4 separate regions of the Homo sapiens genome follow, and regions 1, 2 and 3 are each reported to be linked to region 4. Evidence: microRNA targets listed by miRTarBase, many of them from high-throughput screens and not tested one by one. Region 4 holds a microRNA gene; each other region holds the end of a gene's coding sequence.

Region 1 (7,126 bases), not on the chromosome of region 4:
TTATGCCCTCTTCATTACTTGTCCAGGGAAGACTTCCTGGAGTCCTTGACCTAACCTACAAGATGAAAAGCAGCCAGCTAAGTAAAACAAAAGAGAAGTCAAGTCATTCCAGGCAAAAGGCATAACTTGACCTTGAGCAAACTTGAGAAGGCAAGGGAAATATTTTATAGTTGTCAGAAGAAAAAGTTAGTCCTAGTTGTGAGAGATGCTGAGGCTGGTGGGGCAGGCAGTAACCAGATCTAGTTTGTACTTATCCTATGGGCAAAAGAGAGACAGTGAAGGATGTAGTGCAAAGATGAAATGGTCAGGACCATTGTTTTGCAGCTGTGTAGAGGAAGGACTGGGAATTAATGCCTTCTGGGTATTTTAATGTGGTGGTTTCCAAGGTGTGGCCTTGGGGAACAGCATTAGAACCTGGGAACGTCATAGAAATACAAATTACTGGTTTACTACAGCCTACTGAACCACAGCCTCTGGGTGTAGGGCCCAGCGATCTGTTTTAATAAGTCTTACAGGTGACTGTGATGCACACTCATTTGAAAACTATTCTTCTAAGAGCTCATTCCTCAAGACATTTCATCTCCTTTATGAATTGTTTCTGTCTCACTCATGTTGAATGGACCATACCCTCAATTATTAACCCCCAGTATCCCGTGTATACCTCTCATACAGCAGAATTTTATGGTGCTTCCTTATGTCAGTCTTCCCATGATAATCAGCAAGCTTCTTCATATCAAGTACAGTCTCAACAGCTTTTGTAGCCCTGGCAGCACCCTAAGCGCGTAATAAATTGGCTTGCTAAATGAATGAACACAAAAATAACGATTAGCAGGCATTTGCCGCAGTCCAGTCAATAGATAAGGAGGAAAAGAGGTCTTAAGCCAAAAGCATGAGAGATATTTAGGAAAGAGATATTTAGGAGATGGGCATGAGAGATATTTAGGAAATAAAAGGGACAGAATGCTAGTAAGAGTTAACAATTATATTACTTAGTATGTCCCAGGTACTGTTTTAAGTGCTTTATACAATGTTCCTATTTAATCCTCACAATAACCCTATAAGGTGCAAATATTTTAATTCCCATTTTATAGATAGGGAAAGTTGAGGTTAAATTATTTGCCCAAGTCTAACAGCTAACAGCCAGGATTCAAACTAATATGATATATGATGTCTATCTATCTGTAGAGTCCTTGTTTTTTTTGAGACAGGGTCTCGCTTTGTCACCCAGGCTGGAGTGCAGTGGTGCATGCAATCTTGGGTCACTGCAACCTCCACCTCCCAGGTTCAAGCAATTCCCCTGCCTCAGCCTCCCACACAGCTGGGACTACAGGCATGTGCCACCACGTCTAGCTAATTTCTTTGTGTTTTTTTAGCAAAGACGGGGTTTCGCCATGTTGGCCAGACTGGTCTCGAACTCTTGACCTCAAGCAATCCACCTGCCTTGGCCTCCCAGAGTCCTTGTTCTTTATCATATTCTGCCTCCAAACTCTTGCTAAGTGAGGCTTTTAGATTTCCAGTTTGAATGACTGGGTAAATGGGATGCCATCAGCAAAGAGACAGGAAAAACCAGGGCAAGATGATGACTTCAGCTTTAGATATGCTGTGTTTGAGATACCTTTATGAGATGTATAGCAGGTGGTTGGATATAATAGTCTGAAACAGGGGCATGGACTGGGCTAGATGTATAGATTAAGAAACTGGCTGGGGGACGTGGCTCACGCCTGTAATCCCAGCACTTTGGGAGGCCGAGGCGGGTGTATCACCTAAGATCAGGAGTTTGAAACCAGCCTGGCCAACATGGCAAAACTCCATCTCTACTAAAAATACAAAAATTAGCTGGGCATGGTGGCACACGCCTGTAATCACAGCTACTTGGGAGGCTGAGGCAGGAGAATAGCTAGAACCCGGGAGGCAGAGGTTGCAGTGAGCCGATATTGCGCCACTGCACTCCAGCCTGGGAGACAAAGCAAGACTCCATCAATCTCAAAAAAAAAAAAAAAAAAAAAAATTAAGAAAGAAAAAAAAAGAAAAAAGAAATCAACAACATGTGGCTGGGCAAGGAGGCACTTGCAATAATCTCAGCAGTTTAGGAGGCCAACACAGGATTGCTTGAGCCCAGGAGTTTGAGATCATCCTGGACAAGGTCATGAGACCCCATCTCCACAAGGAAATAAAAAAATTAGCTGGACGTGGTGGCACACACCTATACTCCCAGCTACTCGGGAGGCTGAGGTGGGAGAATCACTTGTGCCCAGGAAGCTGAGGTGCAGTAAACCATGTTCGTGCTATGTACTCCAGTCCAGGCAACAGAGTGAGACCTTGTCTTAAACACAAAAACAAACCTGTGAGGCCATTTGCACTTCAGTTTCCCTTAAATATTGTTCACTAGGTATTTCAGCCCACACGTCTTCTCATTATATGTAATCCTTATTCTTTTAGGGCCATCTCATCCATTCTTATGGTTGCATGTTGTTGATTTCTTTTTTCTTCTTTTTGGTAGAGACAGGGTCTCACTATGTTGCCTAGAGCTGGTCTCCAACTCCTGTCTTCAAGTGATCCCCCACCTTGGCCTCCCAAAGTGCTGAGATTACAGGCGTGAGCTGCCATCTGGCCCTGAAGTACAATTCTTTACTATTTTTTTGAGAGCATTCTAGACTAAAATCACTTAATATCCATCAACCATTACTTACTGGCAATAGCAAATTAATTCCAATACTTCCTAATCTGGAAACAATGTCACTTTACATAGCATAAGCTTTCTGTCTTCTAAGACCTCAGCAAAATAATTAAACTTGCTAAAATCACCACTAGAAAGTTATGAAGAGGACAGGGTATTAAGATTCCAAAACAAAATTAGGTATTTCTGTCTACTAAATATCATTCTGAAACCTGACACACTGGCATTATAGGGTCCAAAAAAGTAAAATTATATGCATTACTCACTTCAGTAGTTTTTGGATTCAGAGCTAACTTTCTAAGTTACAAAGAGCAAAAACATGTTGCTGAAAGATCTTGCCTGAAACTACAGCAAAGGTGTTTACAAAATCTTTTCTGATATTCATAGGAAAACAAGCAATTTACTGTATTGGAAAAGGAAAACATATGATTTCATTTTGCATTTCCTTTAAGAAAACAGCCTTATCTGATGAGATTTGGGTAGCCTGTAGCCAAATACTTCCACTGTGTTCCACTTTTGCAACCAAAATTATCAAATGAATTTTATTTAAATGGAAAAGTCAGTTAAAACCAGAATATCCTTTGTCCAATCAGTCAATAAACTATTACCATACTGTCAATTTTCCATTCCATAAACAAGATTTCAAAAACAGGTATGAATCTGGGGTAGCAGTGGTTTGAAAATTAGGATTCAATTTAAAACAGAGCTAGAATCCAAAATTTACTTGCTGAAATGTTTAAGGTCTTTAATTTCAAAACACTTACTAAGCATAATATATCCAGAGATTGGCAATTAATTTTAACAATTTAGGTCTTTAGTAAAATTAATGTGGGCAGAAAATGTTACTTCATTACAAAGTGTTACTATATACTTTGTCTTGTGACTAACTAGAGCTTACAGGAGTATAAACAAGTTAACTGAATTTTTCAGTGGCTGAGGATTTTGTATACTTCCTCATTTTGAACTTCAATCATGACTATATAATCATATTCATACATCTGAGACTGAACTAGATATAAAGATATCACAACACCCACTAGAACTGGTTAATTAGATATGCCCATTATTTCTTCACTATTTACCGAAGAAAAGTATGAAGAAAAAAAGACTAATTTGGTTTAATTATGGTTACATAAAAATTATGTAAATATTCAAACATTTGATGAAATCATCATACTCCAACCATAAAGAATTGTAATTCCTAATGGTTAAGCAGCTTTCAGATATCATTAATAAAATACATGACTGTCATTAAAAAAATTATCATTCAGTGCTATTGATTTTATAAATAACCTTTTAGGTTAGGCCCTGCCATACCAAATTTCCTTCCTGCCTTTTTTTTTTTTTTTTTTTTGAGACAGACTCTCGCTCTGTTGCCCAGGCCAGAGTGCAGTGGCGTGATCTCGGCTCACTGCCAGCTCCGCCTCCTGGGTTCACGCCATTCTCCTGCCTCAGCTGTAGCAGCTAGGACTACAGGCGTCTGCCACCACGCCCAGCTAATTTTTTGTATTTTCAGTAGAGATGGGTTTTCACAGTGTTAGCCAGGATAGTCTCGATCTCCTGACCTCGTGATCCGCCCGCCTCGGCCTCCCAAAGTGCTGGGATTACAGGCGTAAGCCACTGCGTCCAGCCCTCTGCCTTCTTTTAAAATAAATCAGGTAGACCTAAACTAACTTAAATGTTCTCATGAAAATCAGTAAACAGCTTGGTTTTGTATTAACTTTTAGATCTCCTCAGGAACCTACATGTGACAAATTCCTAAGTTTAACACCTTAATATTACTAGTAAGTAGCATGAGTGGTAGACTATGTCTGGACTCCACATCCTGCCACTTCCATTCCAGTATCTGGACCACATCACCACTAGGAGTATGGAGTTAATCATCAGTATGACACAGCATTGAAATTCTAAGCACTGCTGTTACTAATTTTGTTAATGTATGCATATAAACAGGTATATAAACACTAAAGCCATAAAAGAGCAGTATCTATTTCTTTAGTACTAAAAGAATTTCAACTGTTAGAAAAATGAATTGGCTTAAGAGACAAAAACAAAGCAAAACAAAACAAAACATGCATCTTGAAAGTTAAAAACAAACAAACTGAAGAAAAAGCCAGTTGAAGTATTTGGATTTAACTTTACCCAACTAAGACATTCACACAACATATGCATGTCAGTCTCCTGTTCAGTCCTAGAGCCTGCAGTATTGTAATTTATTGTAAAACCATGTAACCAAATACTTAAATATATCCACAACATCTATACCACAGAAATGCATAGTACATAATATACTAACATCTCAAAATAAACTTCTATTACAGTTTTATGCAAATTATGGTAAAAGATTATCACCTGCCACATTTTGAAATGGCACCAACTTCAACATCAATGCACTAGTCAAAATCCTTACTAGAAGTGATGTCTTCTGCATTATCATCTGAACATTCAAAATCAAGCTGTTAATCTAATAACCACAGTATGTTATCATTTAAAATCACTGTATATTTGGATGTTAAAGCAGGTAGTAATACAGCAGGAAAAGTGTTTCTAATTCACAGTTTCAAAACTAAAGGGTGCAGTTTTCAAATATCTGATTGCTTAAATTGGTCACTCAATTTAACAACTGCCTCCTTCAATACATGTAAACTATGTTTGCACAGCATTAGGAGATGTCTTTTATTTCAGAATTAGTTCTTACTGTTACAGGAGCACCACAAATTTTAAGGAAGAGGCTACAGTGTGAAATGAGCTCACTGAAGGATATGTTAAATAAAATTTTAACTACAATATAAGGTACTGCAAAAGCTTTGTTCCCCAGCACAGATCCCTTAATCAGGAAAAGTAGTGAACACTTACCCAATACAATATGTAAATTCGCTCTACAGGAGATGGGGAAAAACCTAACTCAACTAAAAGAAAATACTATTATTAGCTAACAAACCTGTGATAGCTGGCTTCAGAATTTTCCTAAAAATAAAATTCAAAAGCATACACAGTATTTATATCCTTTGATAAGGAATGTAGACATCCAAACGGAATGAAAGAAAAATCTGGTTTTAAGAATTTCTAAGTGGAATCACACACACACAAATGGGTAACTGAGAAAAACTAAATATTCAAAATTTAAGTAAGAAGATTTATAATAGAAAAAAGTGGCAAATTGTTACTGTGACTTGATTTTCTGAAAACATCTGCAAATTCACACTGGCATTAAGAAAACCCAAGTCTCAAAAATTCTCCTTTCTTTCTCTCCAGATAATGTGTTTTCTGTGCAAAAATAAATATCTGAAAATTGCACTAATACTTATTTTAACTTCTATATTATGAATAATCTGCACATGCTGCTTTACAGACGATACATATTTGTAAACTTACTCATGCAAAATTAGTGTGCGCAACAGGGATATTGTTAATTTTCATACTTAAAAATGATACCTTATTATCTTTTAAAAATTGCCAAACTCTCTGAAATGGTTAACAAATCTTATATGGATATTCTTGTCTGCCAGCTAAAAATCAATTTATGTTGCTGAAAACAAAAAGTTATACAAGAAAAAGAAACATGGTTTTTGTTTTGCAAGATTTTTGATTTTTAAATGAGAAAATTTATAAAAGAAAGAAATTCATGGTCACAAAATTTTAACATTTTAATCCTAAACATTACAGGGTAAATAGATACTGGACCCTATCTCCATACTCCATAAAATCCTAACTTTTAGTTTCCATTTCAAATGTTGCTGTAACCACTAAAACACTAGTGGTTTTACAACCTCTGGATTATGGAAATACACATTTCTGAAATAAATGCTACAAAAACAACAATGGAAGAAAGCCAAACAAACAGTCTCCATGAAGGAAAAAAAAGTGGAACATTTTGAAGCTTTTAGACACTTCTCTTTCCATGTCTTATGATTAACCTGTCAATTCAGTGCATTGTATGGTCATATGTAATGGTCCCCATGGTGAACAAACATCTAACTAGTGTCCATTGATTCCAAGTTAGTAGATGATGAATCTTTCTGGATACTTTCAAAGATAGCCGCCAGCTCAGGGTTAGAACTGATCTGTGACTGGAATTCACTCATCAGTGGACTCTTCTCTGCTTCTGGAATGGTTAGCAGTGCTGCTACTGCTCTCATGGCAGATCGCTTTAATTCATCTTGTTTTTCAAACTCCTGCTTTACTGAGTTTGCCTTTACCTGTAAGATGGAGTAAACTTAGATTACATGCTATAAAAGACAGCTCTTACATGAACAAAATTTAAGCACATAAGATCTTCCTGCTAAAAGCTACTCTCGTAGGTCCATAAGGCATATTACATTCTAAGAACAACTGTTTTTAAACTTATTTTTAAAGTAGCTGTCTCCTTTTCTTTTAAGGGAATATTTTACACAAAGCCCCATTATAAAAACAGAAAATCTAGACCCAAATGATTGTAACAAAGAGAGT
Region 2 (7,126 bases), not on the chromosome of region 4:
CAACTTAATACCTGTAGGGGTGTGCAGGCAGCAAGACTGGGAGAGGGAGAAGTTGAACTGTGGTGGGGTTGCAGTGGAGCCCTCAGCTCATCTCACGGGGAGCTCTGGAGTTTGGTGGCCTTTCAGCATTGTTCCAAACTGGGGACAAATTGGGGCCGGCCTACTCACTATATAGTGATCAGTCATTGAATGCAGGCTGGTGCCAGGAAGGGGACAAAGCAGCTTTCTCGATGTAGGGCCATATCTAGAGAAACAATGTGGCTTCCCAAGAGTTATCAGCCACCACCTCTCTTGGCAGCTGGGGAAACGCCTGCCTCAGTGCTTGAGCAGATCCAGGGGGCACTGCAGTGTCCGTTACATCAGGCTCTCTGAGCCTCCTGTTCATGACCTGTTGGAAGAGTCCAACAGGTCTGCTGAAATGTGACCTGCTGAAACGTGCGTTTCAGCCTGGCTGGTTTCTTTTTAGAAGACTCTGGGCTCTGGATTCAGACCCCTCTCCCTCCCTAGGATGGAGACGAATGTCTGCAGAAATGTGAGAAAACAAGATAGACCGTTTGCTAACGGCTCTCTTCCTTGCTTGCAGCGTGCAGGGCTTGCTTTCACAAACAGTGCTTCCAGTCCTCCGAGTGCCCCCGGTGTGCGAGGATCACAGCGAGGAGAAAACTTCTGGAAAGTGTGGCCTCTGCAGCAACATGATGCCCCTGAGTACTGTGAAAAAGACTGTTCAACATGCCTTATGATAACACCGATTTGTGTCTATTATTGGTGACATTGTTTTAGATATTGGGTATTGTATATTAAGGAAAAAGATGGTCTATATTCTCTTTATTGCATATACTTAATGTTTCAAAAGAATGCAGATTCTGTGTTTAAGCACAGGGCTGATAGTTGTGGTTTTGTTTACAAATGTTCTGTTTTGGCTGCTATTGGTTTTTTAAAGAGGTTTTTTATACTTTTGTATTTGAATAGTTATGTTTCACTGATGCTGAGCCAGTTTGTATGTGTGTGCATATATGTGAACTGTAACTGACAAGATGAATTACTCAGTTTCTCTTTCTCTAAAGCTTGTTTGATGAAACTGGTTGGTCCTTTCAGTGAACAAAAATATGACCCCAAATCTGTTTGCTCTGGCTTTTATTTCTTCAGGAAGCAGACTTCCACTTAAATGCCATTTTGTGATTGTGTCAATCATACACATTTTATTTACTTCAGAGTTTGAATAGAGAGTACACATTTCTTCTGCAGATTTATTTCATGATGAGTTTGAGTTGCTTAGCAGGGCGTGTGGGTCCCGTTGAAGTGCAGTTTGAAGCAACTGCTTCTAGATGGCACTCTTTCAGGTGGCACAAATTGAACCTGTATTTGTCATCTCTGTTCCACACACTGCAATGTCAAGGGATGCAGAAGTGAGTAGAATTCCATCCCTGCCCTTGAGGATCTTGCTTTAACAGATGTAAAACTGAACATAAGGTATTTGCAGATTTAAACGAACTGGGGGAAATAATGAACAGTGTGATTCTAGTAATAACATTAAAATCATAGACATTGACTAATAAGGTTAAATGAATCACAAAACCTTTATGAATTTCTTTTTTCTAATAGTTCTTATATGTTTTCCTGAAACATGTGAGCCTATTCTTTTTTCTTCTACTTTCTATATACTTTCTCCCACTTGAGAAAGGGGCCTTGAGGCTGGGTCCCTTCATGGTATACCTTTAGACTGAACGGTTTGCAACCTAGGGCTTGGGCATTACATTCCCTGGGATTCACATGCCCTAACTAAACCTACCTTGATTTTCTCAGACAGCACAGGCAGGCAATAAAGCGTCACAGATTGTCCCCTAACCCCATCCAGCCATGTGTATGAGTGTGTTTTATTCAATGGGATAGTACTGAGCACATGAAAGAAATGAATGACTTCTGTCAATCTCTTTTCATTCAGTCTTCTCATTCTGTCAATTGTTTTCTCATCCGCAGTGCCTCTGCCAGAACTGTGCTCACATCCATTATTTAAGCCAGATCTTTTCTAAGTATTATAGAAGTGTAGAGGCACATAGAATAAATAAAACCAGACTTCAAACAATGTTTCATTCTTGCCCATTGCTCCTATTCCCTGTTAAGAATCAAGGGTAAGAGTGGTATGTTCACATTCCTTTCTGAGGCAGATGTCTATATCTCCATTTACAGGCAAGGAAACTGAGGCCTAGAGAAGAGAAATAACTTTCCTAGGTTCCCACAGGAAGTGCATGATGGAGCTGGGGTTGACATTCAAGTCCACCTGCCTCCAAAGCCCATGCTTAGGCCCTGCTTCTTTTGTGGTGTCTTTTCAAGACAAAGGAGTAAAAACAACCTTAACTGGTAAGTGTTGCTCCAACTTGCAGAAGTGGCATTGGGCAGAGTGTTTTCTCACATCAGTGTTGATTTAAGGCAGCTGCTATGGCTCAAGCATTGCTTGAAGGGCTCTGTGCTCAGGGTTTGTATGTTTGTAAGGCACTGATGAGCCTGTGTGTGTTACATATCTTTGATATTAAGGAAGAGTGCACAGCAGTTGCCAGGAAGTGATGCTTTTGATTTTCTATTTTGAGGAAGAATGAGGTCATTTAAATAACTGCAGTATGGGATTTGTCTGAGACTTTGTTCCTCTCCAATGTGATAATAGAGGCTTCTTCCCAGGAAGGCACCTGTTAGGGAAGTGATCTTCAGCCCACATGGAGCACCCCATAAGGAAGTAATTAGTTGTGGCATATATAGCTGTTTAATGGGTCTTCCTGATTGTGTGGGTTTTCTGTTCAACTCTTCCTTGGCTGCCGGAAAGAAGATGAATGCTTGGTCAGACCATTACCCACTGTGAGGCATCAGTTGCAGTGCTGTAAAGGTCAGTGATTCATTTTCTGCCTCTGCACTCTTCACATGGGCAATTCCAGTAGTGTGTCATTTACAGTCATGATTCTCAACTGCAGGGAGGAAGTTACACCATCTCAAGGCAGAGGCTATAGGATGAGGAGGAGCAAGCCATCCCAAAGATGTCTGGTGTGTTGACCTGGGTGAGAATTATTGGCCACAACTTCAGATTAGATCCCAAATATGCCACTTTCTACCTACCCATGGTGACTTGGTGCTCTAGTTTGGCTTGTTTGACTCCTGCAAACCTCATGGTGAAATTTGATCCCCAGTGTTGAAGGTAGGCCTAATAAGAGGTGTTTGGGTCATGCGGGTGGATCCCTCAAGAATAGCTTGGTGGCACCTTTGTGGTGATGAGTGAGTTCTCACTCTTAGTTCCCATGAGAGCTGGTTGTTATGAAGCCTGGCACCTCCCTGCCCTCTCTTTGCCTCCTCTGTTTCCATACAAGGGGAGTCTGCACACGCAGGCTCCCCTTCCCCTCCACCATGAGTGGAAGCAGCCACAAGTCCTAACCAGAAGCAGATATTGGTGCGATGCTTGTACAGCCCGCAGAACCATAAGCCAAATTAACCTCTTTTCTTTATAAATCACCCAGCCTCAGGTATTCCTTTATAGCAACACAAATAGACTCAGACACTGGGGAAGCCATTTAAATTATCTAAGCCTCTGTTTGTAAAATGAGGGATATGACTCTCTGCAGTTGAGATAAGGATTAGAAATGAAAATGAAGCACCCACTAAAAGGCCTGGTACAAGCAAGGGCAAATGGTAATAATGAGGTCTAGACAGATTACAAACTGAGTCATACCCCTTATTTTCTGTATCTCTGGGTAAGTTACTCCCTGGGTCTCAGTTTATAATCTGTAATACAAGGATTAGAACAATAGCTACTGTTGTGGGTTGAATTGTGTCCCATGAAAGAATATGTTAAAGGTCTATGCTGGTGTCTGTGCTGTGGCCTTTTGGGAAGTAGGGTCTTTGCAGAGGTGGTTAAGTTAGGATGAGGACATAGTGCATTAGGATGAGTTTTGATCTAGTGACTGGTGTCCTTATAAGAAAAGGGAAATTGAGAGAAGAGAGAAGATGCAGGGAAGAAAAAAAGCAGAGGTTGGGGTGATGCATCTACAAGCCAAGGAGCACCAAGAATTGCTGGCAGCCCCCAGAAGCCGGAGAGAGGCAGGGGGCAGATTCTTCCTCAGAGCCTTAAAAAAAAAACCCAACATGGCTGACCCCTTGATTTCAAACTTCTGACATTGAGAATTATGAGAGAATAAATTCCTGGGGTTTTTTTGTTTTGTTTTGTTTTTGTTTTTGTTTTTTTGAAATGGAGTCTTGCTCTGTCACCCAGGCTATAGTGCAGTGGTGCGATCTCAGCTCACTTCAACCTCCGCCACCTGGGTTCAAGTGATTTTCCTGTCTCACCCTCCCGAGTAGCTGGGATTGCAGGCGCACGCCACCAGGCCTGGATAATTTTTGTATTTTTAGTAGAGACGGGTTTTCACCATGTTGGCAAGGCTGGTCTCTAACCCCTGACCTCAGGTGATCTGCCTGCTTCGGCTTCCAAAAGTGCTGGGATTACAGGCCTGAGCCACTGCGCCTGACCCTGTTGTTTTAAACCACCCAGAGTGTGGTCATTTGTCTGAGACTTCGGAATTCAAACCTGCTGGAAGGAACGTGGTAGACATGTCAGGAAGGGGTTTGACATTCAGTTTCTGCCCCCAGGTCTGAGCCTGCATGGCTGGCTTAGCCACCGTCAGATGCTACCTGCAGGAAGCCTTCCTGAACTCATCGCCAAAGGAGGGTGAAGTGTGTCATTTTTAGAAGCGTGCTTCCTTAAAACAAGCATTTAAGGATCTCTGTCTTTAAATAATTTCTCAACTGGTATGGGAAGGAAAACCGTAGTTCCCCTTTTTCACTTCACTAGAAACTAAAACAATACTTTTATGAGTAATGCTGAGGTAGCAGGCTGCAGACACAATTGGGAAGCTTCAGCACAAACATGAGAAATCGAGAACCTTTGCATCCTCGCATATCTGGGCAGCTCTCCAAGCCAAGGGGACTGAGGATTGAAGAGCTTAACCACATAGGTTAAGCAAATTGTGTATTTTTCCTTGCACTTTTTTTTTTTTTTTTGAGACAGGGTCTCGCTCTGTCGCCCAGGCTGGAGTGCAGTTGGCGTGATCTCAGTTCACTGCAGCCTCTGCTTCCCGGTTCAAGCGATTTTCCTGCCTCAGCTTCCCTAGTAGCTGGGACCACAGGCATGTGCCACCATGCCCAGCTAATTTTTTTCTGTTTTTGGTAGAGACGGGGTTTCGCCATGTTGGCCAGGCTGGTCTCAGAAGTGATCTACCCGCCTCGGCCTCCCAAAGTGCTTGGATTACAGGTGTGAGCCACCGCGCCCAGCCCTTCCTTGAACATTTTCTGGCCTCTGCTTGTGCTTCCAGGCTTCTTTCTCCCCAGGGCTGCCCCCTCTTTTCTAGTCCTGCCGTGTTCCTGCCTCCATGGTCTTGTTCTTCTTGCATCCCTTGCCTGGGATCAGGACTGCCCTTTCATCCTGGAAAGAGGCCCTGCTCTGGCCTTCCTCGGGCTACGTACATCCCCATTGGTGAGGAGACAAAGGGCAAGCGCACCCAAAGCCCCCACCCCTCCTGTTAGATCAAATGGAGCCCCAGACAGAATCCCCTGCCCTGTGGTCTCAACCCCACTTTTAGGGCTGCTCAGGTCTTTCCCCTGGTCCAGCCTCCTGAAAGTGAACTGCGCTGCTAAGACCAAGAGGCAGCCAAGGGGCAGCTGCTTGTAGGATGGAGCCAAAGTGGGAAGAGAGAGGGGCAGGGGTTGGCCCAATGCTAGCTATACCTGAGCCACCATGCTCCAGAGCAGAGCAGTGAGGAGTCAAAGATTTCAAAATTCAAACCTGCTTTCTCGGGTCCTGATGAAGGGATATTCACCATGGTAGGAAGATAAAACATATTTCAAATTTTAAATACTTGGATATATGGCATGTGGACCTGTATTTGTACTCTTGCATGGGCTCTGCAGATGGGAGTGGTGGGCGCTTCCCCTTTTCATCTCCCTCCCGATCTTGCCCATTCTTCAGCGTACTGCACGTGCACACACATGCTCCCTTCTCCTTACACTCTGATATCTGCATTTACCTCATTATTCTACTGGGGACAGCTCTCTGAACTTTTGGCAGCCTTTGATCCTTTCTATCTGCCCTTGAAAGTCTCTTGGAAGCTATGAGAGAGACTTTATTCTCCCTTTGCTCCTGCAGCCCCTGAAGGTCCACATTCCTGAGGGCCCTACCCAGCTCCCTGAGTGATTGTTTGAAATAGAACTACTCAGGAGTGCGGTGCCTGCATTGGACTTTTTACAAGCAAGAATAAACCTTTATTTTGTTCAGTTCCTGAGATTTTTGTGGGGCTGGTTCCTACAGTGTAACCCACCCTACTCTGACTAACATAAGATGTCCTGATACCTGTTGTCCAGGGGATGAGTACTGAGGGAACAGGTTTGTCACTGTCGTAGTCTGTTTAGGCTGCTATAATAAAATACCTTACGCTAGGTGGATAATAAACAACAGAAACTTACTGCTAACAGTTCTGGAGGCTAGGAAGTCCAAGATCAAGACAACAGCAGATTTGATGTCTATTGAGGGACCACTTCCTGGTTCATAGATGGCACTATCTCACTGTATCCTTACATGGTAGAAAGGAGAGAGAGCGGACCAGGCACGGTGGCTCACACTTGTAATCCCAGCACTCCCAAAGTTGAGATATATGCCTCAGGCTGAGACAGGCATATCACGAGGTCAGGAGATTGAGACCATCCTGGCCAACATGGTGAAACCCAGTCTTTACTAAAAATACAAAAATTAGGTGTGGTCGCAAGTGCCTGTAATCCCAGCTACTCGGGAGGCTGAGGCAGAAGAATCGCTTGAACCAGGGAGTTGAAGGTTGCGGTGAGCTGAGATCACGCCACTGTACTCCAGCCTGACAACAGAGTGAGACTTGGTCCCCCCTCCCTGCCCCCAAAAAAAGAAAAAGGAAAAGAGAGAGAGAGAGAACCCCCTGGGGTCTGTTTTACAAGGGCACTAATTCCCTTTGTGAGGGCCTCACCCTCATGACCTAATCACCACCTAAAGGCTCCACCTCCTAATACTGTCACAATTGGGGGTTAGGTCTTCAACACATGACTTTTGAGGAGATATAAATATTCAGTCCAT
Region 3 (7,126 bases), not on the chromosome of region 4:
TGCAGAAGGGAGGGGGGTTAGCTTCCAGCCCCATAGGCTACCAGTGGACACTCCTCAGTGCCTCCTTGACTTCCCAGGTTAGCTTCCAGCCCCATAGGCTACCAGTGGACACTCCTCAGTGCCTCCTTGGCTTCCCAGGGCAGTCTATCGCCTTGATCTCCGGGATCACTGGAGAGAACAGCAAACCGGCGCCTACTTTTCTGCCCAGGAGCCTTTTGCTTGATGGATGGTATCTGTGTTTGAATGTGCAATTTTGTTAGGCTTTTAAAAGGCAGGAGATTCCCCGCGGTCTGTGGGCCTCTCCTAGCTTGGCATTATAATCAAGAAATTATACTTTGCTATGCAAAAGCATGATGGCTTTTTTAAAAAAATCGTTTTTTAATGTTCCCTTCCCAGGTTCACCCTCCCTTTTTGTTATTTTGAATTCTGGTCGTAACAATTCGGTCTTACTTTTTTATTTTTTATTTTTTGTTCGTTTTGATTTACATTTTTATTTTTTTTCCCCCACAAGCAGAAGGTTTTATTTTAAATTCCAAGAATATGATGGTCAAAATTGCTGGGAAGATTCTGATTTAGGGTTGTCACTGCAGAGCATTTCCATGTCAATGTAAGTAGGTACCCAAAGTCGTTTAGGTGCAGCATTCAGTAACGTAAAGGTAAAGAAAAAAAAAGTAGCCACCTGTGGCTTTTTATCCCCAGTCGTAGTAGGAATAAGATTGCATGGTTTGGGCACACTACCAATCACAATTTCCAAATTTCATTTCCACCACTGAGATGCCTTGACTCAAATGAAACATTAGTATAGGTTTAGGTGGTGTTTGTGTGTTTTTGGTGAAACATTAGTATAGGTGTAGGTGGTGGTTGTGTGCTTAACTGACCCCCTAAAAACAAGACCAAATACTTAAGCACGGAATGTATTTCTGTTTATGATATGGAATTCAATACACCCCTTCAGTGGTATAAAGACATTCCTGGATTTCTTTAGGATAGGGTCAGAGTTGGTTTACTATCTGGCCTTCAGTTTTTAAAAGGGGCGATTCTTTGATATAGCAATAGCGTCAATTTTTTTTTTCTTTTACCTTTACAGGTGAGAAACCTTACCACTGTGACTGGGACGGCTGTGGATGGAAATTCGCCCGCTCAGATGAACTGACCAGGCACTACCGTAAACACACGGGGCACCGCCCGTTCCAGTGCCAAAAATGCGACCGAGCATTTTCCAGGTCGGACCACCTCGCCTTACACATGAAGAGGCATTTTTAAATCCCAGACAGTGGATATGACCCACACTGCCAGAAGAGAATTCAGTATTTTTTACTTTTCACACTGTCTTCCCGATGAGGGAAGGAGCCCAGCCAGAAAGCACTACAATCATGGTCAAGTTCCCAACTGAGTCATCTTGTGAGTGGATAATCAGGAAAAATGAGGAATCCAAAAGACAAAAATCAAAGAACAGATGGGGTCTGTGACTGGATCTTCTATCATTCCAATTCTAAATCCGACTTGAATATTCCTGGACTTACAAAATGCCAAGGGGGTGACTGGAAGTTGTGGATATCAGGGTATAAATTATATCCGTGAGTTGGGGGAGGGAAGACCAGAATTCCCTTGAATTGTGTATTGATGCAATATAAGCATAAAAGATCACCTTGTATTCTCTTTACCTTCTAAAAGCCATTATTATGATGTTAGAAGAAGAGGAAGAAATTCAGGTACAGAAAACATGTTTAAATAGCCTAAATGATGGTGCTTGGTGAGTCTTGGTTCTAAAGGTACCAAACAAGGAAGCCAAAGTTTTCAAACTGCTGCATACTTTGACAAGGAAAATCTATATTTGTCTTCCGATCAACATTTATGACCTAAGTCAGGTAATATACCTGGTTTACTTCTTTAGCATTTTTATGCAGACAGTCTGTTATGCACTGTGGTTTCAGATGTGCAATAATTTGTACAATGGTTTATTCCCAAGTATGCCTTAAGCAGAACAAATGTGTTTTTCTATATAGTTCCTTGCCTTAATAAATATGTAATATAAATTTAAGCAAACGTCTATTTTGTATATTTGTAAACTACAAAGTAAAATGAACATTTTGTGGAGTTTGTATTTTGCATACTCAAGGTGAGAATTAAGTTTTAAATAAACCTATAATATTTTATCTGAATAATGTTTTTTATTGTTTTGTTTTCCTCCTGGAAAAATATGAACAGTGTTTGGTTTAAACACACCGGGTTAATAAGGCATGTAAGAAGCACGCACAAAAAAGCCAACTTTATGTCAACAAATTAAAATACCTTTTTTTATTAAAAAAAAACTATTTAGTTTTACCATAAATACTATCAATATAGGGCTGAGAACTCTTGATTATTGTACGTTTAAAAATTACAAGATTAAAAACCCAGTTCAGGTTTGCTCTTTCCAAATGTACGTAAAGCTACGTGAAAGCAGTTTCCTTACCTATGATTTTCCCAGTAGAAACAGCTTAATCATCCTTAAATTTGCTCAGTTTAGTATGAAAATATTTATGAAATATATACATTTCAGTTTCATATTTGAAAAAAATCTTTATGGTTTGTCTTTTAAAGTAAATAAAAATAAAAAAGTTTTCTGTGGAGGCCTGTCCCAGCACCCCTCACATCTGAGTAACAAAAGAACCTTCCTACAGCAGACAACCCTAAGAACGTAGTTCCACAGTGCCCTCCTGAGGATTAAAGGGTTCATTTATGCTTGGTGTGTGTTAAAGATACATCACTTCTACTAGTTACAGCCTTAAAGAGGTCAGAACCAAAGTTTCTGGCAGATTGTTTTAAAGCTAAATCAGTTCCCCTGACTGAAGGTGGGAAAACAAACTGAAATAAAATAATTTAAAAATTATTCAAATTCATAAAACTAAGTGTAAAGTAAGATGGTGTTATGGTAAGTTTGTAGCGTTTATATTAGAAGTTTTAATATTAAAACTCAAAACTGCCCTGTTAGAATCTGAAGTTCTTGAGATGGGTGCCTGAAAGATTGAAATTCATTTGGGGCTATCGCAAAATGGAAAAAGCATTTGTGACACTTGTTGACACCTTATATACTTGTAATAGTGATGTGGGTGACTAAACATCATCAAGGGGACAGAGCTCACTGCTCACTGGCATTTTTTTTAGAGTGCTTATTAACTATTGATTGTATCTAGTGTCCAGAGGTGCGTTTGTACCATGGGTACATGTAATAAATGAAATAAAAAATGGATGTTTATAAGAGGCTTATGGTAGATCAGCACAAGGTATTTTCTTTGGCTTTTGAGAGTCCACCATGACTGGAAAGCATAGCATGTGTCTCTGCTTAAAAGAAAACAGGTGCATCAATAGGATGGAATTTTATGTGGCCAAGAACATATTCAAAGCATATTTAATGACATGGAAAAATGCTCATAGTAATGTTAAGTGGAAAAAGCAGGATATAAGACTATCAACAGTACCAATTCAACTGTGTACATTTAAGTGTATGTGTGCTTTGAAGGAGAGAGAGAGAAACAAAAGGAAATTAAGAGAAAACCCTAGAAGGAACTGCCAAAATATTCATACTGGTTTTCTCAGTTTTAATTTTCTTTTCTTTTTTTTTGAGATGGATTCTTGCTTGTCACCAAGGCTGGAGTGCAGTGGTGTGATCTCGGCTCACTGCAATCTCCACTTCACAGGTTCAAACGATTCTCCTGCCTCAGCCTCCTGAGTAGCTGGGATTACAGGCGCCCACCACCACACCCGACGAATTTTTGTATATTCAGTAGAGACAGGGTCTCACCATGTTGGCCAGGCTGGTTTCGAACTGCTGACCTCAAGTGATCCGTCCACCTAGGCCTCCCAAAGTGCTGGGATTACAGGCATAAGCCACCGTGCCCAGCCTAAATTTTCTTTTTTGAAGTTTTCAAATATTCTAAAACAGCTATAGTAAGTTTGAAAAACTTTTTCATAAGAATGAAGATATAAAGAACAATTAAAATTATTTAAACAAAAAGCCCTCATTAGAACACATTATTCTGTAAATTATGTTTAGATTTCTTTAAGTTTAAATTTCTTAAATTTCTGTTAAATTGTGGTTGGTTGCTTTTGTAATCCACCTCTGTTATACAGAATCTTTTGGCACACGGTGTATGAAAATGACTGAAAAATGCCATCTTTATATTTGCTAAGTGCATATTATCTCGAATAGAAGAAACATGCATAAACTATCAAGAATTTTAAATTTATTTAAAATTTTCTGATGTCATAGATTAACATTCCTCTACGTTAACTTTTTCTTTATTCTTAATTTTTATTTAATTCTTTTTCTTCAGCTTTTAAGTTCAGGGTACATGTGCAGGATGTGAAGGTTTGTTACATAGGCAAACATGTGCCATGGTGGTTTGTTGCACCTAGATATTAAACCCAGCATCCATTAGCTATTCTAACTGATGCTCCCTCTCCCCAACCCCTATTTTTTTAATTTTTAATTTAATTTTAAAAAATTTTATAGAGGCAGGGTCTCACTATGTCGCCCAGGTTTGGTCTCGAACTCCTGAGCTCAAGCAATCCTCCTGCCTCGGCCTCCCAAAGTGCTGGGATTACAGGCATGAGCCATAGCACCCAGCCTACATTAACTTTTTCTAGCCTGAAAAAGAAAGCTTCAATATCTAAAATGAATGAGGAAGATTTCCCAAAACTGTGACCAAACAAAATACTATTCGACATACGCCAATAGCTAAATTATTTACTCTGGGACCTATCAGCTGTGGGCTCCTAGGTGTGCTGTCATTATGGTGTTACAGAGCCGTTTATACACTATACAATAAAGAGTACCTAATAATTGTGATGCCTGCTTATTATATTTTCCTTATGACACTTAATTTTACTGTTTCTTATTTTAACTTGTGTGCCTACACACACAAAGGATTAACAATGATGTTTCCTACACACATCAACAGACTTTCAGTCCACCTATTTTCCAGCAAAATGTCTCTTCTGATAAAATTCTTTCTGCCTGAAAACGTATTTGACTCTTGCTATCCTGTTTCAGTTTGTAAAACAAAACAGATGCTTTCACTATCTCAAGTAGGATGGTCATGAGGAATATTTCTTTTTCTTCCAAAAATTGTTCCAGGCCGGGTGTGGTGGCTCACACCTGTAATCCCAACACTTTGTGAGGTTGAGGTGGGAGGACTGCTTGAGGCCAAGAGTTTGAGAGCAGCCTGGGAAACATAGCAAGACCTCATCTCTATCAAAAAAAAAAAAATCAATGAAAAAGTGTTACAATTTTTAGAAACATGAAATGCTCTTCACAGTTGGAGATTGATAATTTTTACATATAATTTATTTCCATATAAGGAAGCCCAGGGGAGGTAGTCTTTATGCTACAGAAGCAAGTCCACAGAGAAAATATTAAAACAAGCAGTGGTGGTACCTGTTGTACTTCAACAAATGGGAGTATCTAAATTTAGCAGCCTGTATCAGCCACCTGTCCTATTAAATGTTCTGGCTTCTGAAGCTCCATTCAACACAACATACATACATAGATGGATTTGTAGCCTAGATACTCCCTCACCCACTCTTGTCCATTTATTTCCCTGTCTCTCATACAGACATGAATGCCACCCAGTCCCACATAAACCCTTTTACTTTATGTATTATTCTTATCATTTTATTCATGATTTTATTACATATTGCGTTTTATCTATTTGTTTTACTTCTTTGTATTTTCGTAGCACCTTCTACAGGCTATTGTATAGTGACATGTTTTTATAGTGCTAAACCGAAGCTATGTCTGCCTCCTAAAGGTTGTTTATGAAACTATCATTCATTGTTCACACGCAGAGTCATTCAATAATATTTCATATAAAACCTCCAAGACCAGTCTATATAATGAATGCTGTAAAAAATATCATGGAATGTTCTACCTGTGGGGGGGAGGAAAACCACAAACTACTGTTAAAGTTAGAATACTGCATGAAAATAAAAACTTTTTTTCTACATTAAATGAAACTAAAATGAAAGTTGGAAAGTTTCCCTTTGGAAAACTTTATCTTAAACAGCAAGGTGAATCTTGAGTAAATTTCTCACCATCTCCTGAAAAACTAATAAATTCTTAAATCCATTTGAAGAACCTGGTGCTTTACTCCCCTGGTCACAGTCAAAACAGAGGGAAAGCAACTGCTAAAATGTTAGCATACACAGAAAAATCTTTCAGGCTGGAATCAAGGCTACCACAGCCAGTTAACTTAGCTGGGGAGGAACGGGTGCATGGGGTTGAAATATTAGTCAAACTGCTTCTCTGGAGTCATGTGCATCTGGAGCCCATCTTTTTAATTGTTTTCCACGGTGCCCTTGATATAATATACTTTTTTAAATTGCTTCGGTCTTCTCGACACCCTAGATGAGTCAGCATGTTGCAATCATTCGCCCAAATGTCTTTCTCCACTTGGTCTTTTTTTTTTTTTTTTTTTTTTGAGACGTTGCTCTGTCGCCCAGGCTGCAGTGCTGTGGCGCAATCTCTGCTCACTGCAACCCTCCGCCACCTGGGTTCAAGCCATTCTCCTGCCTCGGCCTCCAGAGTAGCTGGGACTACAGGCAAGCACCAACACGCCAGGCTAATTTTGCATTTTTAGTAGAGACGGGGTTTCGCCATGTTGGCCAGTTCTCGAACTCCTGACCTCAAGTGATCCTCCCGCCTCGGTCCCCCAAAGTGCTGGGATTACAGGTGTGAGCCACCACGCGCGGCCTCCACTTGTTCTTAAAGGAAAGGAGGAAATAAACAAATTCAATTTAATAACAGCAAAAAGTAAATTCACAGTTAGAAATCCCTTTGACATCTCACCTGAGGATACCTAACACAACATTTTTCTTTTTTTTTTTTTTTTTTTTGGTATTATTAGTAGAGATGGGGTTTCACCATGTTGGCCAGGCTGTTCTTGAATTCCTGACCTCAAGTAATCCACCTGCCTCGGCCTCCCAAAGGGTTGAGATTACAGGCGTGAGCCACCGTGCCGGGCCTGCTTTTGTTTTTTGTAAAGACAGGGTCTCCCTATGTTGCCAAGGCTGGTTATGTTTCTTTTCATGTCCATTTTACATGTTATAATAATATAATCTAAGTAGAGCAGGAAACAAGAAAGTT
Region 4 (7,126 bases):
AGCCTTTTTTAGTAGTTTTCAGATGGCTTCTTTATGTTTTTATATTGAAGAACCACTAACTTCCCATTGGCCTATAAGGTTAGCAATTGATTATTTATAGCAAATGGCTTGAAATGTTAGATCATCAGTATTTGTCAATAAGCCTGTAATAACTTGTTTCCCTAGCCCTTAACTTAGTGTTGAAGAAAAAAATTGTGGTATTCATTGATAGGACTTAGAAAGCACAGAAATTACTTATTATTTAAGATTTGTTCTACCAATTGATATTTAAAGTAAAACATTTTTAGTTACTGAACACCATTCTGTAAATGACAGTATTTTATCCTGAGTATATGGTCTGAAATGACTTAGGGACAACTTTTTAAAGCAAATAACTAATTACAAAATTGGGTCTTCCAATTTATTTCAAATTAGATGCTTTTGTACAAATATTCTTGGTTAGAAATAGTCATATAAATACACTGTTGGACTTGTTCTCATTGATCTCCACACCTCAGTTCCTTCTACATGAGTCATGGGCTTGAGGTTACCCAGAAATGGACTGTGAACCTATAAACCCCAGCATGCATGTGGTATTGCGTCGAGCATGTTCTGTGATTCCCTTCTACTCTTGTTACAGCTTTATTCATTGGATCAATGTGCATTATTTGCTGTGTGTGCTCAGGTAATATTTTTGTTTCTTTTTTTTAGTTTGAATATCAGTTTGGGCTTAGTTACTTTTTAAAATAAGGCTGTTTCAGATAGTCTCTGCCACACTTTGCCTAGCCTGGTTAATTGTGGGTGGACCCATGCTACATGTTTTGGCATTGCCTTTTTCTTATCTGTACCATATTACAAACTTCCTAGTAATTTGACATTCACTGCTGTCTTTGCTTTAGCTTTCCAACAGGTTTGGTGAAACAGTCCATTGCTGTTCAATATCAGCTTGCATCAGAATTACTTGGAGGGCTTATTGATTAAAACACAGATTGCTGGGCCCTGCAAAAAAAGTTTCTGATTCAGTAGGTCTGGGGTGGAACATAAGAATGTGCTTTTCCCCCCACAGTTCCCAAGTACTGCTGATGCTGCTCCTCTAGGCCCATGCTTTCAGAATCACAGAGCTCATCTTACATTCTTTTCCTGCTAGATATTATGCCCAATTAATACATGAAGTAAAACAGAAAAATCCTTAACTTAAAAACATGTATTAATCCAGAAGTTTGATTATAAAAAGGTTTGTTGAAAATGTGAGACCATTTTTTCTCCCAGAGAAAAAGTATATTAATTGTCTAGCTGGGAGGGGCCTATTTGAATGTGTTTTCAGAGAAAAGCAGAAGAAAAAAATACGGTTGTAATAGAAGTAGTTAAAACAGAAAAGCAGTATGGTTGTAGAGTGGGGTGGCGGGGAGGTATATGTGTATTTAATCTTGAGAACCAATGCTTTTGGAAAACAGCCCGAAGGGACAAGAGACTAGGTAGAGACTGGCGAGGTTCCTGAAAGTCCTGGGTTACCTGTGAAATGCCAAAGATTTTTAAAGTTTGCTGGCAGTGGTTATTATATGTAGTTTTACTTCCAAATTTGAAGATTTCCTCTTCTTTGATGCAAGTGTGTTGGTAGGACCACTGATAATAGTTAGTGGAGATATTTGTGGGAATATATTTTTAATCAGAAAGAATGCAAAAAGAGGGGGAGACATTTCTTTGAGACACCTTAATGACACTGGGAACAGTAGAAGGTGGAAAGAGATCAGAGTGTGGGAAAGATGTGCCTGAGATGAAATTATCTGAATTCTGAATGTGGGGGAGAAGATGAGGAGAGGGTTGAGGGGGAGGAGAGATGACTAAGCTCCTCACAGTGTTTCATTAACTGTCTTTTACCTAAAGGAGGAATCTTCTTAATGAAGATTGGTTGATGCATCATACTGGTCATCAAGTAAGTTCTTATAAATGCAAGTTTGATTGTTTTGAAGGGAAGGATATAGGAAGGCTGGATAATCAGCTACATTTAGATATGGAACACTACAGGATGTCGGCATTTATTGTTGTAAATTCCTTTGGTGAAAAACGTTATCACTTGTTTGTGACTAGCCTGGGCAATATAGTGAGACCTTGTCTCTAAAAAAAATTTTATTAATAAGAAAAATTAGCCGGGCATAGTAGCGTGCCTGTAGTGCCCCCCACTGCCCTGGACACGCCCCCACTTCCAAAAAAACAAACACCCAACTCACTTCTGCCTTTTCCTTGGATTCTACACTTTCTCTCAGGATATCTTTCCGATTGAGTCTTGCCTCATTTATGTGAATGCTGTGCCTGTTCTTTTTTTCAACAGAGTCTTACGTAAAGAACCGTACAAACTTAGTAAAGAGTTTAAGTCCTGCTTTAAACCAAGTTTCAGTTCATGTAAACATCCTACACTCAGCTGTAATACATGGATTGGCTGGGAGGTGGATGTTTACTTCAGCTGACTTGGAATGTCAACCAATTAACATTGATAAAAGATTTGGCAAGAATAGTATACAGAGGCTTGAATTTTTAATGTAATTAATGTAATTAAAGGTTTGTTGGAAATGTGAGACCATTTTGTTCTCCCAGAGAAAAAGTGTGTTAATTGTCTAGCTGGCAGGGATCTACTTGAATATGTTTGCAGAGAAAAGCAGAAGAAAGCATGGTTGCAGTAGGAGTAGTTAAAACAGAAAAACAGTATGCTTATAGAGGAAAAATTACTCTAAATTTATTAAAATTCCTTTAAATTTGTTACTCAATTTAAATTTTTATTGTATCTTTTCAATTTTGCTATAGCACTAACATGACATAAGGCTCTGGGTATTGGGACAAAAGAATGCCCTTGTTTGGTAGTTGGGGTCGGGTTTGTAGTATTGCAGTGTGCTTTAACAAGCATGGGCTTTGACATCAGACATTTGTTGCCATCTGGACTCCACAAGTGAATTTGCTACGGGATTTGGAGGAGGGAAAGGCACTGTTTCCATACCTCAGTGGTTTTCTCATCTGTAAAATAAGTATGTGATTGCATGGATTGACTTACATGATGAATATAAAGTTGTTCATTAGTACAGTACCTGTCATATTAAGTACTCAATAAATGCTAGTTATTATTAATGCTGTGTTGTAGGTGTTCAGTAAATAGTTGCCATAATGCTTAAAGCAGACATAACTTGTTTTTATTTTTGCAATAAAGATGATGCCAACTTTTTGGTTTAATGGAAATGCTTTGAATCTTTGATATTGTTGTAATATAGTGGCAAAGAATTTTGAATCCCAGCTTCTGGAGCTCATATCTTGATTCTGCGAGTTACTTCGCTATGTTACTTTGGGGGAAGTTATTAATCTCTCTGTGCCTCAGTTTCCTCAGTCGACTAAATTGAAATTATAATAGCACCTACCTGATAGGATTGTTGAGACTAAATGAGGTAACAATTTAAAAATAAGCTAATACCTGATAATTAGTTCTATATATGTACTGATTGGTCTAAACGTTATTTCCATTTTCATGTCTTTACTTAAAATACTGAAAATTAATTTTTTATAGCTTTGTTTTTCAGTTCCATGAAATCAGCCTGCCTTTTCTTTTTTTGGTGATACATCCACATTCTGTATAGGTGAAAAGCAAAACAAACAAGTATAAAACGAAAATTATGTAAGAAGTACACACATCCTAGCAGCTTGGCAAGTGTCTGTATGCTCTTGCCTGTGCCTAAATCCAGAATTAGAATTCATGCTTGGTGCTCCTGTGGAAGATGTCTAAATGTTATGAGAAATACATGATTAAATAAAAATGTGAAATGAAAGCATGGAGACTTGTTGAAGGTGAGTGCTGTTTTTCTAATTATATATTTTATTTGTTTAATGAATAATTTGTTAATTTTCTTTGTCATTACGAGAGAGCTGTTTTATTCTGTACTTAGGTGCATAGCATACTATGTTTTAGTGAGCTCCACATGTTAATTTGAAACTTGCCAAATTTTTACATTATTTTATAATTTATAGTACTTTGAGAAACATATTGCAATGCATTACAAAGCATATAATGTAAAGGTAGTTTTATGAAGTGTTTTTCTCCCAAATTAAGCATATTTGGGAATTGCCCATCAATTTGTTTTTGAACCTCAGTGCATAAAATATAGAATTTTTCTTTCATATGCTAGATGTGAAAAATACTCAGCATATGCATGTGGTTTAGGCTACAAAATAGCCTGTAGGTTAAATTCCTAATTCTAGTGTTTAATTCATTGCCTTTTTTCTTCTTGTTTAATGGCCATATGTTTATATCTTTATATTACATACATTCCTGATTATGTAATAAGGTCTTTGATCATGTGGGCTATCAGATTTGCCTCACTTTGTCTCTTAGAAGAAGCTATACATGAAACTATGTTGTACTTAAGTGAAAATTTGAGTATTTTTCTTGTTTGAATTAATGCAGTGAAACATTCTACTTACAGTTAGCTGTCTCCCACCCTTACAGGAAGGTACATGCCTTCATTTTTTAAAACACTGTATATTTATTAGAATTGTTACAGAATTTTAGTAAATATATTCTAATCACATATTTTCTGATTAATGTGTGCTTATCAGTTTTAAATGTTATGAAATCTGGATATATGTTAAAATGTCTCAGTTTTCCCCTCTTGTTTACCATATTGCCATTTGGTATTAATAGATAACATAATGTAAAATTGGATGTCTTTGATAATTTTGGGATATGTTCTGAAATTAAACTTGAACTTTTTTCTGTGAATTTTGAAGATTTGGTATCTTATAATTATTTGGTGAGCATTTGGCATGAATTATTTAGCTTCTCCCCTGTTTATGATTTATTTCTCTTGTCATCGATTTCCAATAGGAAAATGTTATGGTTCTAAATGTCTCCTGTAGACTTCAGTAATTGAAAAATGTCAGTCAAGATGGGGGGAATCTGTAATATATAATAGAGTTTATCTTTTAGTTATGTTCATTTCCACTTTTTTTAATGTGTTTTTTTTTTAGTAAATGTCAAAAGTGTTACTCAGTGCAACATATTATGCAATATTATAATCAACTAACCTCTTCATTGATAATGACTTCATATTGAGAGGTTTTTTAAATCTAGAAATATTCTTGTTTTAAATTCCAGGTTAAAATGTAAAGGTATTTTTATTTTTTTAATTTTAATTCTTCTCAAAGCTACTAGTACATTATAAAACAACAATTTCACATTTAGAATTTTTATATGTATATAAATTAGGATTATTTTTTAATATTAGCCTTAACTTTCTTTAACTTTTATGAAAAACAACTAGTCCCAAGGGTATTTTTACTATTTAATATACATTATTCCTGTGATTCAAAATCTTAGCAGTAGAACCTGTTGAGCTACTTAACTTTCTGTCTTGGGACTATCCAGGTGCAGTTATAACTGGTTTCAAAGTTGTGACCTTTTCCTTGCTTGTTTCAAAATCATTCCTTAAAAAATGTTCAGTATTTTTCTTTTGTCAAAAAATAAAAACAGGATTTGTGGGTTGTTCTGTTTTTTAAAATTAGTTTGAGAAACTTCCTTTGCCACTTGTTTTCTGTGCAAATGTTGTAAGAGCTCAAATTCCCTGGGGGTAGGGAGGACTTTTATAAGGTTTTTTTGGTTGAAGGGTATAAAAGGCACTTAAAAGGTATACAGTTACTTTTATTTCGATATCCCAGTCATTTTGACATTATGATAAGCTTTCCCCACTTTATAGGTTATCTGAAAATTTGGTGGGGGGCGGGTATTTTATTTATACTTAATATAACAAAATTATTTTCCTATGTGTAGTCAATAGCACATACAAAAAATTATCTCCTGTTTGTAGTCAGTAGCACAGTCAGTATTCACCAAAATACTGAGTTATTTTTCAAGTAAAGGTATAAGTATGAATGAGAAACAGTTTGTGGGTTGGGTATTGTCAGTCCTTCTTTTTCAGATAACTTTCTAAATGGTCATTCAATCTGTAATCTTAAACTTTTTTAATGTTATAAATTCTTCAAATCAGTATTTGTATTAAATGCAGTGACCAGACTATGTCACTGATACAATGTCATGATTAGATGTGCAGAAGACTATGTTACATGGATGATAAATGAACTTTTAACATATAGAAATTAATATCAGATTAAACTAAAACATTAAGCAAAGTTAATACATGCTTGCATACATATATATATTTATTTATTAATGATATGTGGAGAATCTTTGTGCTTCATAGTCACTAGACCTAAAGTAGAAGCAGTTGTCAAGAATGTCCAACTGCTATTCATCTTTGTGGCCAAAGTAAATTTCAGATTTTTTTTTTGTAATGGTTTTCTTTAGTCTCTTTATTAACCCATCATCATGACAAGTCTGTCAAGTGACACATGTGAAAAGCAGATGTCCTTTCTTATTCCTGGTGCTTCCTAAGGAGGCAGTGCAATGCAGGAGAAGGAACATTATTAGAGATAAAGGAAAAAACCAGAAGTGCTTTCTCCTCTCACATTCCACTCAACACTTCTCTCACCAAATGTGTGTGGGGATTTCTCTCCACCAACAACCAGCAGTTCTTTACTGCAGATTCTCCAGTGGATACCAGCCAGGTGTCCTCTAATTCAGTTCAATTCTGACATTATCTACTGGGAGATAGTGTCAGATCCCGCAAGTGGAGGGCTCAGTCCTACAAGACTACCCCTTACTTCAGATGTCAGTCACAAGCAGTTAGCGGTTTGTGATTCTGACCAACTGGCTAGAGGTCCCCCTCCTCAAGTGTGATTAATTTGCTAGAGCAGCTCACAGAATTCAGGGAAACACTTTATTTACATTTACCCATTTATTATAAAGGATATTATGAAGGATACACATGAACTGCCAGAAAGACAAGGAGCATAGGCAAGATACTGAGAAGGGTCACGGAGCTTCTGTGCCTTCTCCAGGTGCACCACCCTCTGGGAATAGTCAGTTCATGTGTTCAGCTGTCTCGAAGCTCATTCGAACCCTGTCCTTCTGAGTTTCTGTGGAGGCTTCATTACGTTAAGGTTCAGAAATCAATACCCCAAAATATGGGGCTTTGACATGCTGAATTAAAGAAGCAGCCTCAAGGCCTCTTGGCCTTCTCCAGCTCTCCTCACCCAAATCCTGTCTCTCCCAAAG

The links. The annotated mature microRNA hsa-miR-30b-5p reads UGUAAACAUCCUACACUCAGCU and lies in region 4 at 2,379-2,400, shown strand. An mRNA with a match to its seed (bases 2 to 7 or 8) in the 3' UTR can be bound and repressed. Matches are read on the target gene's strand: a 7mer-m8 pairs with bases 2 to 8, a 7mer-A1 pairs with bases 2 to 7 and ends in A, and an 8mer does both.
Region 1: miRTarBase lists CAND1 as a target of hsa-miR-30b-5p. Seed matches in the 3' UTR shown: 7mer-A1 at 6,042-6,048, 7mer-A1 at 5,318-5,324 and 7mer-m8 at 4,374-4,380.
Region 2: the mRNA of RUBCNL is a reported target of hsa-miR-30b-5p. Seed matches in the 3' UTR shown: 8mer at 898-905.
Region 3: miRTarBase lists KLF4 as a target of hsa-miR-30b-5p. The part of its 3' UTR that is shown has no 7-base or 8-base seed match.

The regions. Positions count from the first base shown.
Region 1 is chr12:67,312,356-67,319,481 of GRCh38, reverse strand. CAND1 (cullin associated and neddylation dissociated 1) reads right to left here. Exons shown (of 15, transcript NM_018448.5): 15 at 1-6,876. The coding sequence ends at 6,652. Among named protein-coding and RNA genes, the nearest start is that of CAND1, 47 kb to the right of the region's middle.
Region 2 is chr13:46,336,955-46,344,080 of GRCh38, reverse strand. RUBCNL (rubicon like autophagy enhancer) reads left to right here. Exons shown (of 15, transcript NM_025113.5): 15 at 584-7,126. The coding sequence ends at 696. Among named protein-coding and RNA genes, the nearest start is that of LINC00563, 43 kb to the right of the region's middle. RefSeq lists an enhancer at 4,890-4,969.
Region 3 is chr9:107,479,888-107,487,013 of GRCh38, reverse strand. KLF4 (KLF transcription factor 4) reads left to right here. Exons shown (of 5, transcript NM_004235.6): 5 at 1,088-2,162. The coding sequence ends at 1,263. Among named protein-coding and RNA genes, the nearest start is that of KLF4, 6.3 kb to the left of the region's middle.
Region 4 is chr8:134,795,844-134,802,969 of GRCh38, reverse strand. MIR30B (microRNA 30b) reads left to right here and starts at 2,363; the gene lies at 2,363-2,450. It also overlaps a transcript of ZFAT not described here.